2 linked regions of the Homo sapiens genome follow. Each later gene encodes a partner of the first gene's protein in a complex. Each region holds a gene or a part of one and is shown on either strand. Other genes may lie near its edges.

The links.
Region 2: the proteins of RAB1B (region 1) and TBC1D20 are in contact, whole or in part, in a crystal structure (PDB 4HLQ), measured with the Homo sapiens proteins. Residues at the interface, in NP_112243.1 of Homo sapiens: Ser17, Gly18, Ser36, Tyr37, Ile38, Ser39, Thr40, Ile41, Gly42, Val43, Asp44, Phe45, Gln60, Trp62, Ala65, Gly66, Gln67, Arg69, Phe70, Thr72, Ile73, Tyr77, Glu94; in NP_653229.1 of Homo sapiens: Gln97, Gln98, Leu101, Asp102, Arg104, Arg105, Leu107, Arg108, His141, Tyr142, Tyr143, Gln144, Gly145, His147, Asp148, Phe177, Met178, Asp179, Pro180, Thr181, Met182, Lys186, Val212, Ile215, Leu218, Ser219, Thr223, His227, Met272, Ala273.

Annotation. Positions count from the first base shown.
Region 1 is NC_000011.10:66,262,734-66,271,638, reverse strand, and holds the start of RAB1B (ras-related protein Rab-1B), read right to left. Parts: upstream 3,001-8,905; 5' UTR 2,960-3,000; coding exon 2,946-2,959; intron 1-2,945. Other genes in the region: KLC2 (kinesin light chain 2), read right to left, coding at 4,683-4,766, 5,149-5,206, 5,422-5,546, 5,627-5,785, 5,876-5,984, 6,404-6,471, 6,567-6,616, 7,195-7,294 and 4 more. UniProt on the Homo sapiens protein: The small GTPases Rab are key regulators of intracellular membrane trafficking, from the formation of transport vesicles to their fusion with membranes.
Region 2 is NC_000020.11:451,102-461,559, reverse strand, and holds part of TBC1D20 (TBC1 domain family member 20), read left to right. Parts: intron 1-10,458. UniProt on the Homo sapiens protein: GTPase-activating protein (GAP) specific for Rab1 and Rab2 small GTPase families for which it can accelerate the intrinsic GTP hydrolysis rate by more than five orders of magnitude. Also shows GAP activity for RAB18 GTPase.

The sequences.
Region 1 (8,905 bases):
AGTGCACTGAAGTGATCACGGCTCATTGCAGCCTCTACCTTGCGGGCTCAAAGTGATCTTCCCACCTCAGCTTCCTGCGTAGCTGGGACTTCAGGTGTCCACCACCACCACCACTTCTAGCTAATTTTTTTTTTTTTTTTTTTTTTTTTTGAGACTGAGTTTTGCTCTTGTTGCCCAGGCTGGAGTGCAATGGCGCGATCTTGGCTCACTGCAACCTCTGTCTGCCGGGTTCAAGCAATTCTCCTGCCTCGGCCTCCCGAGTAGCTGGGATTACAGGCACCTGCCACCATGCTTGTCTAAGTTTTGTATTTTTAGTAGAGACAGGGTTTCACCATGTTGGCCAGGCTGGTCTCGAACTCCTGACCTCAGGTGATCCACCTGCCTTGGCCTCCCAAAGTGCTGGGATTACAGGTGTGAGCCACCACACCCGGCCCCTGGCTAATCTTTTCATTTTTTGTAGAGATGGGGTCTCACTATGTTGCCCAGGCTGGTCTCAAACTCCCGGGTTCAATTGATTCACCTGCCTTGGCCTCTGAAAGTGCTGGGATTACAGGGGTGAGCCACTGCGCCTGGCCATCCCTTGGTTTAGAATACTATGGTGCTCACCAGATCTTCCCAACAGTCCCGGTCAGGGAGGGCTGATGCCTCCCTCCACAAACAGCTAGCCCAAAGGGCTCTCAGCTTGCTGAGTCTAAATTCTCACTTTATGGAGAAAGAAATCAAGACACGTGACCTGCCAAGGCAACAGAGCTGGGTATCCTAACCTGATTTCTGAAACTTCATGGTTTGGTCCAGTAGGAGCTATTTAGGGAATCCCCAGTACATGCCCTGCGTGTGCCTAGCTTGGCAGAGAAGGCCCCAGAAGTAGAAGCCAGGGCCCAGCCTAGAACCTATTAAGTTGAAAACCCACGTAGAGAGACTGATGGCTGGGTGCTGTGGCGTGTGCCTGTGGTTCCAGCTACTGGGGAGGCTGAAACAGGAGGAGGATCCTTGGAGCCTAGGAGTGTATGACCAGCCTGGGTGATGCAGCACAACCCCGTCTCTCTTTTCTTTTGTTTTTTCGAGACAGAGTCTCGCTCTCTCACCAGGCTGGAGTGCAGTGGCACGATCTCGGCTCACTGCAACGTCCGACTCCCTGGTTCAAGTGATTCTCCTGTCTCACCCTCCAGAGTGGCTGGGATTACAGGCATGCGCCACCATGACTAGCTAATTTTTGTATTTTTAGTAGAGACGGGATTTCACCATGTTGGCCAGGATGGTCTCGATCTCCTGACCTCGTGATCCACCCACCTCGGCCTCCCAAAGTCCTGGGATTACAGGCCTGAGCCACCGCACCCGGCTAACCCCATCTCTTTGGAGACAACAACAACAACAACAACAACAACAACAACAACAACAACAACAAAAACCTGTTATGAAGTCACCAGGAAGAGGTGGTCAAGTTGCAGTGAAAATTGCACTTAAGGCTGGGTGCAGTGACTGACACCTGTAATCCCAACACTTTGGAAGCCCGAGGCACGAGAATCATTTAAGCCCAGGAGTTTGAGATCAGGCTGGGAAACATATCGAGACCCTGTCTTTACAAAAAATTAAAAAATGTGCCAGGTGTGGTGGTGTGCCTCTGTATTCCCAGCTACTCAGGAGGACAAGGCAGGAGGACTGCTTCAGCCCAAGAGTTGGAGACTGCAGTGAGCCATCGTCACGCCACTGCACTCCAGCCTGGGTGACAGAGAGAGACCCTGTCTCAAAATAAAAAAAAAAAAAGGCAAAAGGTAATCACATTTAATATACTTGAGTTCCAACCTGTGGACGGACCCTGTGTGAAGTACTTTAAATGCATCATCTCATTTAATCTTCACAACAGTTCAATGAAGTCAGTTTTGTCATTGTCAACTAATGAGGAAACCAGAGGCCAGAGAAGGGAAGTGACTTGCCCTAACTTACACAGTTTATCGCTTTAAGACTCAAACCAGGTTTCTCAGACTCCAAAGTCCCTTCGAGAGCCTGCTGGTTCCCTTCTCTGTTCCCCTCCCAATCCAGCTCAGAGCTTCACCCTTCCCCAAGGAAATCTGAGACCTGGATGTGGAGTAGAAAAAGGAAGTGGCAGAAAAGGAAGAAGATAACTGATACTTGGGGAAAACTATTAGTCCTGGGCATGAGATGTGGGCCACCTACCCGCAGGGGGAGTGACCAAGAGTGAGGAGAGTTTGAGGACCAGAGAATCCCACAGGAAGGGGGAGAGCAAATTCCATATTCATCTAAACTTCACAGGCAGTGTGACAGCCAAGGGAAGGGGTGTGACGGTGGCGTTGGGGGCCTGAGCAAAAGCGAGGAGAGGGCGGGAAAGGACGGACCGGCGGGAGCGACAGGACAGCGCGACCCAGGCAAAGGGTAGGAGGCAGCCCCGGAAGAGAGGACCTGCGGGAGACGCGACCCAAGCGGCGCTTCGGGGCCTCCCGCGTAGTTGGCTAGCTTCTGGGCCGGCCCCAGGAGCCGGGCTTCAGGAGAAAGAGAAGGGTAGAGGGATTCACTGCCCGACCTAAAGGGCCCAAGCCTGAACCCGAGACCAGAAACTATCAAGACGGGCTCCAAAACTCCGGGACAGTTGTCAAGCAGCAGGTGGGGAAACTGAGGCCTGAAGTGACCGGGACTGCGGGGTCATCTGACCGATAAGGCCTGGTAGGACCGATGTCTCGAGCTCCAAGAGCTGCCCCTGGGGGTCGCCACGTCTGGGCCCCGGGTGCGAGGGCTCGGGGTTTTGAGCCGGGGTCCTGGGGCCCCTGGGGGGAGGGGCAGAACCCGGATGTGGGGGGGGGTCAGCGGAAGAGGGACCCGGATGTGGGGGCGCCGCACAGTCCTGACCCGGGCCAGACAACCCCGGTAAGCGTACAGCCCTGTATTCGGGATCGAGGCTGCGCTGGACGGCGCGGGCGGGGCTCACTCACTATTCGGGGTTCATGGCGGCGGCGGCGGCCCGCTCGGTCGCTCCCAGTCGACTCTGCTCCGCCTCCCGTTCCAAGATGGTGGCCGCTCCGCCCCAGAGGCCCCGCCCGCGACGCGCAGGCGCAAACGTCTTCTTCTCAGGCCTCGCCGCGCTGATTCCCGGAACTTGTAGTCTAAGACGTTCTCCAACTCAGCCCCGCTGCGCAGGCGTAGTCGGGGAGCCCGCGCCTCCGCGCCCACTCCCATCACTGCTGGCGCATTGCCTTCTGGGGCTTGTAGTTTGCACTCCGGACGCACTCAGGCTTGAGGACAGTGCTGGAAAGCCTGACCGCGACTCGGTGTTTAGAAAGCTCAATTTAGGGCTGGGCTTGGCACGTTTCACATCTGTCTGACGGAGGTAGTCATCCTTGCCCTCCCAATACCCACGTTGTGAACATTAAATGAGAATGTGGGTTCTAGTAAGACTAATAAAAGTACATTTGTCCAGGGTTCTTCGTGTACTGGGCAGTCCTAACTCGCAGCCGCGCGTCATCACCCGCATTTCATAGATGAAAAAACTGAGTCTCGGGAAACTCACTCAAGGTCAAAAACTTTGTGAGGAGCAGAGCTCATAAGAGCCCGCGGTCTCCAGAACCCCACAAGTGAGTGTTTTAGGGAAAGCCTGACTTGTGGGCCCCTCACGCAATTCCGGGGTGGGGCACAATATCTGGGCCCAGCTGCGCGGACAGCGGTTGAGCGAGACACACTGTCCCCCACTCACGCACGACCCTTCCCGGCTCCACCCCAGTCTAGAGACGCTGGGGGCCCCCGACCTCCGTCTCAAAACAAGCCCAGCTCAGATTTAAACCGTCTTTATTTCTACAGCAACATCTGAAAATATGAGAGCAGCCGCCTCACCCGCAACAGGGGGAGCCCCTCCTGCCACCAGGGGACCGTCGCCGCCCCTCGCGAGAAGCTGCAGGCGTGGGGGGAGGCGAGGCAGGATGGCTCGGTGGGCGGTGCCCGGGGCGGGGTCGGCCGTGCCTGGGCGGGGCCGGGTGGGAGGGGCAGTGCATAAGGCCGGGATGCGGGGCAGGGCCCGGCGGTGGGAGGACGGACTAAGGGGAGGTCCCCGTCCTGGGCCACGGGGCGATGGCGCGGGTAGGACGCATCCCTCAGAGGCCAGGAGGAGCGCGAGAAGGTCCCAGGACCCCCTTGGGAGGCGCCGCTCCCGAGAATGTAGAGCCTGGGAGATACCACCGCACGGAATGGGGGTGATTAAGGCCTGGGCGGTACCACTAGAAGAGGGACGAGGGGAGGCCCGGGTAGTACCGTGGACTGAAGGGAGGCGCGCGGCCAATAACTTATTTCTCTATATACAGAAGCAACGGCCGGGTTGAGTCGGGAGGGAGGGCGAGGGTGCCGAAGGGCCGGCGAGTGCTTAGTGTTCTTGGCTCTGGGGTCTGGGGAGGCCAGGCCACTGAGTCTATGGTGGAGACTCCAGCCGGCACCTCCTGCTGGCCCGAACCTAGGGAAGAGGGCCCTGCTGGAAGGAATAAATAAGGGATGGAGCTGGAGTGGGCAGGCCCAGCCTCCAGGGCTCAGGCTGAGATGACAAGGGAGAAGGTTACCCTGAGATTGAACAGAAAAGACAGGGGCTGTGGGAGAGACAGGCGGGACAAGCAGCAGGCCCATGCGCAGGGCTGGGGTGAGGGGGGTGTGCCAGGTGGGCGCTCTGGTGACTGGCTGCCCCTTCAGCATTAGCCCACCAGGGAGCTTCGTCGGGAGAGGTCCATGGAGCTGGAGCTGAGAGTGCGGCTGTCAGAGAGACCTGTGCCTCCAGGCTGTGGGCAGAGGGGGCAGGTGGCTCAGCCCTGTGCTGCTGCCAGTCTGTGCCTCCCTGGCCTGAAGGGGTCTGACCTGGCAGAGGCAGCCGGAATCCCTGAGCTGGGCAGAGGCAATGGCAGTTCTGACCCAAGGCCACACCCTGGTGCCCTGACACTCCCGTCCATCTCCACAGTGACGGTGTTAGCACTGGCCGTTTACACGTCCACCCCCAGGAGAGGCTGGGTTCCCCTCGTGTCTCCCCGTTGTCCAGCCCAAAGTAGGCCTGAGACAGAGCCAGGAACTGTTGCTGGATGAAGAGGCATGCTGGAGGGAAGCTTGGCAGCACGCATGCAGCCCCGGCCGCAGCTGCCCAGTGCCCAGACACCCGCCTGCCCCTACCTGGGTCGGCTCTTCCACGCTCTTGTTGAGGAAGTTGAGGGAACTGGCCCGCTTCATCCTGAGGGAAAAGGACAGCCTGGGATTTGCCCAAGGAGGAACTCACGGGAGATGGGGGCAGGGAGAAGGGTGGGGCTGGGGAGGGAACAGACTGGTGGGTGGTGGAGCCTGAGAGGGATGGGGAGGTTGCCTGGGGTCAGTGGGGCACACTCTGGGTCAGGAGCTCATCCGGGGTTGCTGGGTGGTTCTTGAGGCTCACCTTGGTGGGGGGCTCACCTGGGGTTAGGGGGCTCCTGGGGGGTGCCCCCCTGCAGCTTCTTTACCAGCATCTCACTGCTGCGCCTCAGGGCATCCCGGAGTTTCCCAAAGGAACCGCTGCGCCTCAAGGAGCCACTGCCATCCTGCAGGTGGACAGGCTTGCCTCTAGGCCCCGCTGGCCACCTAGGCTCCCAGCCCGACCCGGCCCAGGCCCCGGACTCACCCCATTCCACTCAGCTGTAGGTCCCACGTCCTCGAGGTCAGACTCAGACCGAGGCCCGGCACCCCCAGCCATGTCTCGGCTGCTGCGGCGGTCTCCCCGCCTGCCACTGCCATCTTTCAGCAGTTCTACCACCTTGGTCTGGCTTGCGGGGTCCAAACCCTGAGGGAGGGGCAGGGGCATCAGGCAGTGAATGGACCACACCCAGGGCCACACAGGTGTCTGCCCACCCCCTCCTGCATGGAGCCCCACCTGCTTGCGGTTACGGCTGGCACAGTCCTCTAGTGTGTGCGCGGCTTCCAGCTTGCCCTGGCGCCGGTATAGGGCCCCCAAGCTGCGCAGGGTGGTGTTGACTGTGGGGCTGTGGATGGGACAGTCTCAAACTCCATGTTCCCCCAGACCCAGGGCCCATCCTGGCACCCAGCCCACAGTGGGCCCTGAGGAAGCATGGACCTCCGGGGTAGCCAGAATCCATTCCTTCCCATGTCAAGCCCTGTGCTGGGCCCACCCAGCCTCTTCTGTCCTGGGGAAATCACCCCAGGGCTGGGGACCTGGCCCCAGGGCCCTCATGGGATGTTGTCACCAGGACCAAAAGCTGGGAGACCCAGAGCCAGAGAATTAGGCTGAGAATTGGGAGACAGAGCCTTCTTGGGACAGGTGACCTGTGAGTTGGGCCTTGCCAGATGAGCAGCAGAGGAGGGGTGTGTTGGGGGTGAGAGTATGGAATGTGGAGCCCGCCCTGCCGTGCCCTGCTCCCCAGCCCAGCCCCGCCCCACTCACCTGTCTACTTTACAGGCCTTGTACCAGCTGCCGTATTCCCCATAGGGGGCGCTGTCCCGGCGCTTATCCTGGAGGAAAGAATGGTCACAAGAAGTGAGAGCAGGCCCCCCTCTGCACATCCCAGCCTCCCCTGACAACCGCCCAGCCTGCCCCACAGAGCTACCTTGCTTTCCTCCCGCTCCTCTGCGTGCATCCAGATGGGCTTGTTGTCCCCTGGGGAGAGAAAGGGGACTGTCACCAGCCTACCATATAGGTCTCACCTGGTTGGGCTGGACACAGGACTGGGGTCAGGGGAGGGGAGACCACGGTTGGGCTTCGTTGAATGCATGAACAAGAGTAAGACCCAAAACACTGCTGACCCTCTTCTGGACAGAGATGAGCAGAACAGACCCTTGCACCTCAGGCCACAGCCCAAGACATGTGCTAGGCCTGAATGATGGGCCAGGCTCCGAGGGACTCAGGAGCAGATGACTGACCATCCGGGGCCAGAGGTGGTTTCCCAGAGTGGGAGACACTGGGGCAGGCCCTCAAGGTGAGCAAGAATCGCCAGTGGAGAAGGGGGATGCAAAGGCGTGTGAGGCCCTAGCAGGCCAAGGGGGCTGCGTGAGTTGGGTGTGTGCTCATGTGTGCAAACGTGAGCACAGGTGGCTGGGCACCATCTGAGGGTGAGGCTGGTGACCAGCCAGGCCAAAGCCTGAGGGCCTGCCCTGCTGAGGGATTTGTCCTGGGTGCTGATGGCAGAGTGGGCCTGGGATGGATGGGCTAGAGGCACCTGGTGACCACGCACTCACCATTGACAGAGCCAAACTCTTTCTCATGAGCGCGGGTGAGGATCTCCTTGTACAAGGTCTCCGCATCCTGGTACTTGCCCTGCTTCAGGTAGCAGGAAGCCTGGAAGCGGGAGACCCAGAGAGTGAGCGGGATGCATGCAGCCAAGCCTTTTTCTCTCCTTCTTCCCCAACCTCATCCCTGCCTCCCTCCTTCCCATCCTCCAGCTCCTCTCAGCCCCAAGGTACCAGGTTGTTCTTGGTCTTGGCCACATTGGGGTCATCGGGCCCGAGGCGTGTAGCATAGATCTCCAGTGCCCGCCGATAGTAATATTCCACCTCCTCAGCTTTGCCCTGGTTCTGGCACAGCAGGGCCAGGTTGCTGAGCTGCTTGGCCACATCTGGGTGAAACTTGCCCAGGACCTGGGATGGGAGAGGGAGCCAGGGGTTGGGCTCAGGGCTGCCCGGGCCCCTGCCTCCCAGACCCCCAGCCTGCCCAGCCCTGCCTGTTCCCACCTTCTCCCGGATCTCCAGTGCCCGCTTGCACAATGGCTCAGCCTCCTTGTACTTGCCCCTCTTGCCATACAGGACTGCCAGGTTGTTTAGTGTCGCAGCCACCTGGAGGTGGGAGAACGGAAGCTTCTTGACTCAGGCCCTGCAGGACTCTGGGACCTGCAGGGGATGGGGCACAGCCCCCACCTCCCACCCAACCCTCACTCACGGCTGGGTGGTCCTTGCCCAGTGTTTTCTCCCGGATGGCCAGAGCATCATTGAGCAGGTGGGCAGCCTCCTTGTACTTGTTCTGATCCCTGGGAGCAGGTAGGAGCATGGTCAGGGCTGTCCTCCAGCTCAAGGCCCTCCCCAATGGTCTGCAATCCCTGTGGTCACTCCTGTACTCACTGAGTGTGTATGACAGAGTGAGACCCAGAGTGTGGGGAGACCTGCTCAGCTCCTGCTCTCCAAGCTCCAAGGGCTGTAGGCAGTTTTCTCACAATTGGCTGGGGTGCGCAGTGCTGGGGTCCCACCGACTGCCTGGTGCCTAGCATTCCTGGGCGCCACATGGCTCTCCTGCTGCCCCTTTAGCGTGTCCTGCTCTCCAGGTCCCAGTGCCTTTGCTCATGCTGGCTTTTTGCCATGGGAACCTTTTCTAGCCCTCTTGTGTTTGGGCAAACTCACTTTCTGGCAAAGCCCCTCCTCCAGCCTTGGTGCCTGGAGAAGCTGTGTGGACTCCCCAGGACCCCTGGAGTCCTCATGTGCAGTCCCTCCCCAGTTCTGGCCAAGCCTCTCTCTTACACTAGACAGTTTTACTTGCATCTGTAGCCCAGCTCCACGCAGGTGGGCCACGAGTCCTGGCCCACAGCAGGCACCAAGGGTTAGTGATCCAGGGCTGGAGCCTTCCAGAAGAATTTGGGCACCCCCAGAGAGTCCTCACCGATAGACCAGTGCCAGGATGTTCAGCATGGTGGCAACGTCAGGGTGGTCGTGGCCTGACGTCTTCTCCAGGTCTTCGAGTGCCTGCTTGCAGAGTGGCACAGCTACCTCGTAGCGGCCCTGTGAGGCGTATTGGATCACCAGGTTGTGCAGGGTGCGGAGCCGGGCCGGGATCTCGTAGCCCCCATGCTGACCAGACACATCCCCTCCTCCTGGGCTAGGGGCTGCAGGGCCAAGGGCAGGAGGTCAGATGTACCATCTGCCCACTGGACTGGGATGGCACATGCCAGCTGTGCCTTTGAGC
Region 2 (10,458 bases), on another chromosome or scaffold:
CGAGGCCTCATCTCTACAAAAAGTTTTTAAAAGTTAGTCGGGTGTGGAGGCTCGAGCCTGTGATCCCAACGACTCTGGAGGCTGAGGCAGGAGGATCGCTTGAGCCCAGGACTTAGAGGCTACTCTATGATTGCGCCACTGCACTCCGGCCTGGGTGACAGATGGAGACCCTATCTCAATAATAATAATAAGTAAATAATTGTATAAAAAGCGCTTCTATTTTTATACTCTTTTAGTTTGGACAATTTCTGTGAAATCATGTTTTTGTTGCACATGATGTTCTCAAATGTTTTTCATTCAATAAATACATGACAGTTAAAATTATGAATGTACACCGTGAACCAAGTTAAATAATCTTTTTTCCTTGAGGAAGACTAAGGTGACTTTCCCTATTTCCAGTCCTCTGATGGATGGTGCCCGTAACAGAGCCAAACACGTTATTAATACAACCCACATATTTTGAGGAAGCTCCTGGTATCTATATTTTATTTTATATTTTATTTGGGCTCATTTTCTGTTTTTCCCTTTTTCTTATGTTCTGATACTGAATGGAAGTGGAGCTCTGAACCCTTTGGCACCGTAACCCTTTAATTACTGGTGTTTGTGTGATGTCTGTCCTCATGGCATAACAGTCAATGCCCTAGGCAGCATGGGTCTTGTGACCTGTTGGCAGTGCAGCTGTGTATCTGTTGCAAGACTTTACCCCCTCTAGTTTCCTTGATTTTGCTTCTCTGGATGAATGGGACAAATTTAAAGATGAGGTTTTTTGTTTTTGTTATTGTTTTGTTTTTTAATCATATCAGAGTATTGTTGGCAAAGTTACTAATGCTAGAATCCCTCTTTTGTAGCGTTTATAGTCAGATTGGTTTACTTACTAGACTGTTTTTTTCCATTGTAGTGAAACATTCTTTCTTGGTACCTGCTTTTTCCAGGTAGTTAACAGAATCTTTGCTAATTTGGATACTGTTTTGTAGAAACTACTAATGAAGACCTCCAGAAACAGAGGCTAGTTTGTTTTATTTTGTGTTTAATAGAACTCTTACCCAGACTGAAATAAGGTTTTCCTCTCCTGCTGTGGTCTTCTGGTACAGACGTGGAGTTAAAGCATTTTTTTTTTTTTTTTTTGAGAGATGGGATCTTGCCCTGTCACCCGGGTTGGAGTGCAGTGTCACAGTCAAAGCTCACTGTCATCTCCCAACTCCTGGACTTAAGTGCTCCTCCCACCTCAGCCTCCTGAGTAGCTGGGACTACAGGCATAAATTTTCAAGTTAATTTCCAATGTCAATATCAGTAGTTGTGGGTGGGTGTAGGGGTATGTCTGTCTCCCTCCCTCCACACAAAACGGCCCCCCCCTTCCATTGTTTTAAGACTAGCATTTCTTAATTTGAGCTTAATTTCAGTTTAAAGACTGTAAAGCCTTTATGATAATGCAGGCTTAAACCAAATAATCAGTATGGAATTTTGTACGCTCACACGAGATTCCATTATATAAATTAGTTGATCCAAGTTAGTATTTGTTTTGGTGATATGAAAAAATATATGAAAAAACTTTTAGAGGAGGCATGGATAGTGGTCATCTTTAGTTGTTATCGTCCCTTCCCAGTGTATTAAGTGCCCTAATCCAGGTGATTTTGGACATGCCTATTACTCTGAGGGGGCAGAAATCTTTACCTGGATTCTGTAGCCAGAGTTGGGAGAAGTTTAAGCCAATAGTGGGTTGTGTCATCTTTATCTGAACCATTAAGAACCACAGTTCAGATGAAGTGTCCCATTGTTAAAATTAGCATTTTAGGGAGTTGAGTCTGATCTCCCTCCCTGACTACAAAACCCTGTTGCAGTTGTTGCTATACCTATTGCTGTGGTGCCCCTCAAATAAAGTCTGCTTTGCCCTCTTTATAAATAAATAAATAAATAAATAAAAATAAGCGTTCTAATGAAGAGTAGGCCAAAGTCATACCTATCTTCCTTTGTTGAATGAATTACTTTTCAGGCATCAGGGATTTATTTATAGCAGTCTTATATTTTGCAGCCAGCTGTAGGACGGTCATTCGTTCCATCATGGTTATGATAGCCAAGACCTCTACTATAAAGGAATTTGGAAGGTATCAGCTTTGGAATAATAGTGCACTATCTTGTAAGTGGGGCAATAAAGAAATTGGAGAAGAAAGGATTGAGGGAGATTAGAATGACATACATTCTACCTCTAGATGAAATGTGGGCTTTTATTCCAAGCCAGATACAGCGTTCTCAAGTCCAGAAATGTGTGTCCTGCTCTAAATCTATAAAGTTTATCTCGAAATACAATAGATAATAGGCATTTATTTTAATCTTTTCCTGAACATCCCAAGAATAGCTCTATGATGTTTCTCTTTCGGAAATAAACAGGATGTCTGTGAATTTGTCTTTCAGTGGAGACGCTGCTAACTCCCTCCCTGTGTCGTCTAGCAGTTGATCTCACTCTGTAATTCATACATCTTTAGCTCACTTGAATTTTCTGTTTCCTCTTCCCTTTTTATGTCACAGTGAGAGCCTATACATTTAGTTGGAATAAAGTATTTGTCAGAGTGGCACACGTGGGAGTGCTTTCTCCATCTGCCACTGACATTTAATCACTAGGCTGTGGGGTTGAGGAGGGTGGTGTTGGGGCCTGAAAAAAACAGCAGCCGAAATCCACGTTGGGACAGCATCCTCCTCTGGGAAACACCGGTAGTGTTAGAAACAGGCCAAAGAGTCTGCAGATCTGTTTAGAGAGTTCTGCAGTGAGCATCACCTTAACAGTATGGGAAAAATAATGTCATTTACTGCAAGCCAGTTTTTTCCAGAGGAACAATAACTAAACTAAATCACTTACTATATTCTGCACGTATTTGTTGCGTTCCCACAGAGTGCCAAAAATTTTGAAATAGTAAGTAAATTTTGAAATGCAGGATTAAAAGTAGAATTGGAGGCCAGGTATGGTGGCTCAACGCCTGTAATCCCAGCACTTTGGGAGGTCGAGGTGGGTGGATCACTAGAGCCCAGGAGTTTGAGATCAGCCTGGGCAACACTTTTTTTCTCTACAAAATATATATACGCAAAAATTAGCTGGGCCAGTGGAGCTTGTCTGTGGTCCCAGCTACCTGGGAGGCTAAGGCAGGAGGATCACTTGAGCCCAGAAGGTTGAGGCTGCAGTGAGCCATGATCGTGCCACTATTCTCCAGCCTGGGTGACAGAGTAAGACCCTGTCTCTAAAAAAAAAAAAAAAATTGGAACAGAGTCTTAAGAGAAATGAGTTATGGGAGGTATGATTTGAGGATTTGAGTTCAGAATTAAGTAACATTCTGGCAAATGGTTTGCCAAAACCTCATGGAAATTCAGTTGACTGCATAGTGGTTTTTTTCCCCAAGATACAAGATTTCCTTTCTCCCAGATTGCCGAATAGCTTATTTAGAAAGAGAGATGGGGTGGATGTATGTCTAAACAAACTGAAGAAAAATTATCATACTCTTAGCAAATAGGTTAACAAGACTTCTGAATATCAGCTTCCCTCAAGCAGTATTCAGTATTGCCACTCAAGTGCTGTCAATTTGTGATGTGTGGAAAGTGCAGGGGTACTCCCAAGTTAAAAAAAAATTAAATATGTTAGGTTTTTTCTCTTTGTTGGAAATTAAATTCTTCTCATGGTTTGCCTCCACCGATGTTATATAAAAAGGCTTCTCTGTTTCCTGCATGTTTTTGACCCCTCTTGAAAACGTACAGCCTGGTCTTCCAAAGGATGGCCCTCAGGCCCAAAGTAAAATCCCTCCCTGTCTTCCTCCTGAGTACAGGATAAACCCAGACTCCTTTGCGGGATGAATCCAGCCCAGCCTCTTTTACTGCGGTGCTACCTGCTTCTGTTCTCTCCCTTTACCTGGCACTTCAGCTTCATAGAACTCTTTGTTTCCTGGACATGGTGTTTCTTTCATGTGACAAGGTCTTTGCACATAACTCTTCTGCCTGGAGTACTTTCCCCTTAACACACTCTTCCCTGTGGCAAAATTTTCTTTAAGAACGTACCAGAGCCCAGTGTGGTGGCTCACATCTGCGATCCTAGCACTTTGGGAGGTTGAGGCAAGAGGATTGCTTGAGCCCAGGAGTTCAAGATCAGTCTGGGCAACATAATGAGACCCCACCTCTACAAAAAATTTTTTTAAAATTAGGCATGGTGGCATAGAAGGCTGAGGTGGAAGGATCGCTTGAGCCCTAGAGGTTGAGGCTGCAGTGAGCTATGATTGTGCCACTGCACTCCAGCCAAGGCAACAGAGTGAGACCCTGTCTAAATAAATAAATAAAAATTAAAAAGAAGGGCCAGATGCGGTGGCTCATGCCTGTAATCCTAGCACTTTGGGAGGCCAAGGTGGGCGGATCACCTGAGGTGGGGAGTTCGAGACCAGCCTGACCAACATGGAAAAACCCTGTCTCTACTAAAAATACAAAATTAGCCAGGCATGGTGGTGCATGCCTGTAATCCCAGCTACTCGGGAGGCTGAGGCAGGAGAATTGCTTGAACCTGGGAGGTGGAGGTTGCGGTGAGCTGAGATCGTGCCGTTGCACTCCATCCTGGGCAACAAGAGTGAAACTCTGTCTCAAAAAAAAAAAAAAAAAAAATTAAAAGAAGGATCCAGAATATATTCTTGGTGAAGCCTTTCCTGACTGCTTTAGAAGTAGTCATTCTTGGCCAGGTGTGGTGGCTCACTCCTGTAATCCCAGCACTTTGGGAGGCCGAGGCAGGCAGATCACCTGAGATCAGGATTTCAAGACCAGCCTGGCCAACATGGCAAAACCCCGTCTCCACTAAAAATACAAAAAATTAGCCAGGCGTGGTGGTGAATGCCTGTAATCCCAGCTACTCGGGAGGCTGAGGCAGGAGAACTGCTCAAACCCAGGAGGTGGAGGTTGCAGTGAGCTGAGATCGCAACACTGCGCTCCAGCCTGGGCAACAAAGAGCGTAACTCCGTCTCAAAAAAAAAGAAGAAGAAAAAAAGTCATTCTTTCCTCTGGATTTTCATAATCCCTCAGATTCTATTATATATAATAATTGTTTGTGTCCCTACTGTGAGCCCTTCAAGGGCTGGGAGGGAGTAATTCATCTTTTTATCCCCAGTACAGTGCTTAGTACAAGTAGACACCCATTAAGTGACAGACTGATGAATGACTGGACAAATGGGCAGGCGGATGAATGGATGAATGGATGAATGGATGAAAGGACACACCTGAGTCAAGAGCTTGACACATCTCATGAACAATTGACTAGGTGTTATGCTGACAGAAGAAATTGGAGATTTTTTTTTGTTTTTGAGACAGAGTCTTACTCTATCACCCAGGCTGGAGTGCAGTGGCACAATCATGCCTCACTACAACCCGCCTCTGCCTCCTAAGCAGCTGGAATTACAGGTGCACGCCGTCACGCCCACCTATTTTTTGTAGAGACAAGGTTTTGCCATGTTGTGCAGGCTGGTTGCTCTCCAAATCCTGGGGTCAAGCAATCTGCCCACGTCGGCTTCCTAAAGTGCTGGGATTATAAGCATGAGCCACGTCTGGACTAAAAACCATGCCCGGCAGTGGTTTTTATTTTATTATATTTTTATTTTTATTTTGTTTATTTTTTTGAGACGGAGTTTTGCTCTCGTTGCCCAGGCTGGAGTGCAGTGGCGTGATCTCAGCTCACTGTAACCTCCGCCTCTTGGGTTCAAGTGATTCTCCTGCCTCAGCCTCCCAAGTAACTAGGATTACAGGCACCTGCCACCACGCCTGGCTAATTTTGTATTTTTAGTGGAGACGGGGTTTCGCCATGTTGGTCAGGCTGGTCTCGAACGCCTGACCTCAGGTGATCCGCTCGCCTCGACTTCCCAAAGTGCTGGGATTACAGGCATGAGCCACCACGCCTGGCCTATTTTATTTTATTTTTTATTTATTTATTTTATGAGACAGAGTGTCACTCTGTTGCCCAGTCTGGAGTACAGTGGCATGATCTCGGCACACTGTAACCTCCGCCTCCCGGGTTCAAGCGATTCTCCTGCCTCATCCTCCTGAGTAGATGGGACTACAAGCGTGCACCACCACACCCGGCTAATTTTTATATTTTTAGTAGAGACAGGGTTTCACCATGTTGGTCAGGCTGGTCTCGATCTCCTGACTTCAGGTAATCTGCCCACCTTGGCCTCCCAAAGTACTGGGATTATAGGTGTGCCCAGAAGGGGTTTTATTTTTAATGATTTCTAGGTAGGTAACCATTTAATTTGGCTTCCAAACTGGGACATATTTGAGAATACAGGGAGCAGAAAGGGTTTGCTGTGAACAATTGTGCCAGGACTCTAGGTATAAACCAGGAAGATCTCAGACAGATGAGGACAAATGGTCACCCTACTAGGTTACCAGGAAACAGCAGTCAAGCCAGGAGGACAGGTTTACCGAGGTGAAAAGTTACTCCTATTATCTTTCTGTCGCACTTCCAATTGCACATGGCTCCAAACCAGCTAGTGCCTCTGTTTATGTGGGTTTTACGTTTCAGGTCTCATAGGTAGCTCACCTGTGACTTATTAGTACCAACTTTAATTTATGTTAATAATGGGCCAGACCTGATGGCTCATGCCTATAATCCCAGCACTTTGGGAGCCTGAGGCAGGCAGATCACTTCAGGTCAGGAGTTCGAGACCAGCCTGGCATGGTGAAACCCTGTCTCTACTAAAAATACAAAAAATTAGCTAGGTGTGGTGGCAGCATGCGCCTGTAATCCTGGCTACCTGGGAGGCTGAGGCCCGAGAATGGTTTGAACCCAAGAGACAGAGGTTCCAGTGAGCCAAGATTGCTTCACTGCACTCCAGCCTGGGAGACAAAGCAAGACTCTGTCTCAAAAAATAAAAATAAAATAATAATAATAATAATAATAATGTACAGCTTTGTCATAGAAACAGTTTGTAGACTCACAATGGTCTCAGACTAGAACATTGCTGGGGAAGATGCTTGGTGTCCCTTCTAAAACCTAATGTACCTTCTGTTAGTTATTTCTAAAATCTGCCCTACCTTCTGGTGATATCTTCCACTTCAAATGAACTCTGGTGCCTTGCACCTAATATATACTACATAAATATTTTTTAATTAGTCTATTTACTGTCAAATGGAAGGGCCGTATCTCCTGGCCTTTCTTCTGTACCCTTCATCCCAGCCCCTGAATGTCCTCCATTTCCTTTGTGTGTATACACATTTAGTTTTATTGTAACAAGGCAACTCGTACACTTTTTTTTTTCCTTTTTTCTTGTATAAGCAGGTGAATCCATGTTCTTTCTGCCTTTTTTTTTTTTTTTTGAGACAGAACTTGTCACCCAGGCTAGAGTGCAGTGGTGTGATCTCAGCTCACTGCAAGCTCCGCCTCCCAGGTTCACCTCATTCTCCTGCCTCAGCCTCTCGAGTAGCTGGGACTACAGGCGCCCGCCACCACGCCTGGCTAATTTTTTTGTATTTTTTTAGTAAAGACAGGGTTTCACCGTGTTAGCCAAGATGGTCTCGATCTCCTGACCTCATGATCTGCCCACCTCGGCCTCCCAAACTGCTGGAATTGCAGGCGTGAGCCACCGCACCTGGCCTAATTATTGTATTTTTAATAGAGATGGAGTTTCACCATGTTGGCCAGGCTCGTCTCAATCTCCTGACCTCAGTGATCCATCCACCTCGGCCTCCCAAAGTGCTGGGATAGGCCAGGTGTGGTGGCTCACGCCTGTAATCTCAGTACTTTGGGAGGCTGAGACTGGCGGGTCACGAGGTCAGGAGTTTGAGACTAGCCTGACCAACATGGTGAAACCCTGTCTCTACTAAAAATACAAAAAAAAAAATTAGCCAGGCATGGTGGCACGTGCCCGTAATCCCAGCTACTCAGGAGACTGAGGCAGGAGAATCACTTGAACCTGGGAGGTGGAGGTTGCAGTAAGCCGAGATTGCGCCTCTGCACTCCAGTCTGGGCAATAGGGCGAGACTCCGTCTCAAAAAAAAAAAAAAAAAAAAAAATGCTGGATTACAGGCACGAGCCACCGTCCGTGGTTGCTGTCGTTGTTGTTGTTGTTTTTGAGACGGAGTTTCGCTCTTGTCGCCCAGGCTAGAGTGCAGTGGCATATAGCATGATCTCGGCTCACTGCAACCTCTGCCTCCCAGGTTCAAGCAATTCTCCTGCCTCAGCCTCCCGAGTAGCTGGGATTACAGGCATGCGCCGCCACGCCCGGCTAATTTTTTGTATTTTTAGTAGAGACGGGGTTTCTCCATGTTGGTCAGGCTGGTCTCGAACTCCTGACCTCAGATGATCTGCCCACTTCGGCCTCCCAAAGTGCGAGGATTACAGGCGTGAGCCACTGCGCCCAGCCTGTTTTTTTTTTTTTTTTTTTTTTTTTTTTTTTTTTTGAAACGGAGTTTCGCTCTTGTTGCCCAGGCTGGAGTGCAATGGCGCGATCTGCAATCTCAGCTTACCTCAATCTCCGCCCCCTGGGTTCAAGCGATTCTGCTTCAGCCTCCTGAGTAGCTGGCATTACCGGCCTGTGCCACCACGCCCGGCTAATTTTGTATTTTTAGTAGAGATGGGGTTTCTCCGTGTTGGTCAGGCTGGTCTCAAACTCGCAATCTCAGGTGGTCTGCCCGCCTCGGCCTCCCAAAATGCTGGGATCACAGGCATGAACCACCGTGCCCAGCCTTGTTTTTGTTTTTAGAGACAGGTCACCAGGACACCTTCCTCCTTTTCCTCAGACTAGAACATTGCTGGGGAAGATGCTTGGTGTCCCTTCTAAAACCTAATGTACCTTCTGTTAGTTATTTCTAAAATCTGCCCTACCTTCTGGTGATATCTTCCACTTCACATGAACTCTGGTGCCTTGCACCTAATATATACTACATAGTTTAAATAAAATTTAGAATTCTGCTGGAGTGGAAAAGTCCAGTGCCTTGATAATAGGGTATTGCTCTGTCACCTAGGCTGAAGTGCAGTGGTGCTATCATAGCTCACCACAGCCTTATACTCCTGGGCTCAAGTGATCCTCTCGCCCCAGCCTCCTGAGTAGCTGGGACCACCATGCCTGGCTAACTTTTCGTACTTTTTGTAGAGACAGGGTCTCACTTTGTTGCCCAGGCTGTTCTCGATTTTGTGGACTCAAGTGATTCTCACACCTTGGCCCTCCACAGCACTGGGATTACAGGTGTGAGCCATTGTACCTGGCTTCCTTAACTTGTACACTTTTTTTTGTTTGTTTGTTTTTGAGATGGAGTCTCGCTATGTCGCGCCCAGGCTGGAGTGCAGTTGTGCGATCTTGGCTCACTCCAGCCTCTGCCACCGGGGTTCAAGCAATTCTCCTCTTTCAGCCTCATGAGTAGCTGGGATTACAGGCGTGCGCCACCAGGCCAGGCTAACTTTTGTATTTTTAGTAGAGACGGGGTTTCCTCATGTTGGTCAGGCTGGTCTCGAACACCTGACCTCGTGATCTGCCTGCCTCAGCCTCCCAAAGTGCTGGGATTACAGGTGTGAACCACTGTGCCCGGCCTTTTGCTTGTACACTTTTAACATTTAAAGCAGAGTATCATCTTTACAGTGAAAGAAAAATAAAATTTAAAAATGAACAGGAACAAAATTACAATACAGAATTCAATTCCAAATAAGATTCTACAGGTTATGCTGATTGTCCTAATCAAGTGGTGAGGCTCAAACCATCATTAAGAGAGAATTTATTGGTTTATTGATTTATTTAAACTATATATATATGGTTGAGGCTGCAGTGAGCCATGACTGTGCCACTACACTCCATCTTGAGTGACTGAACAAGACCCTGGCATCAAGGCATTGGACTTTTCCACTCCAGCAGAATGGGCTTTGCAGGAAAAGGAAGAAGGTATCTGGAAGCAATAGGAGACAAAAGTAAAGAAAAGGCAGATGTGATGGGTGCTGCTTTGGGTTTAACTTGAGACACCAAAGATAGGTAGGTCTGAAGCCGAGAGAATTTATTTATTTATTTATTTTTCTTTTGAGACAGAGTCTTGCTCTGACGTCCAGGCTAGAGTGCAGTGACGCTATCTCGGCTCACTATAACCTCCACCTTGCAGGTTCAAGCGATTCTCCTGCCTCAGCCTCCTGAGTAGCTGGGACCACAAGCGCCTGCCACCATGCCCGGCTAGTTTTTTGTATTTTTAAAGTAGAGACAGGGTTTCACCATGTTGGCCAGGCTGGTCTCGAACTCCTGACCTCAGGTGATCTGCCTGCCTTGGCCTCCCAAAGTGCTGGGATTACAGACGTGAGCCACCGTCCCCGGCCAAGAATGTATTTTAAAAAGGTCGTCTTACACTGCAAGGATGTTCATTAAACATCACAATTAAGCATGTCAAGAGAGTTTTGCTCCTCTTCCTTTTTAAGGTACACTTCTCAGGTTAGCTTGGCCCTGACCCACTGCAGTCTCTTTGAGCTCTTGGCCATTA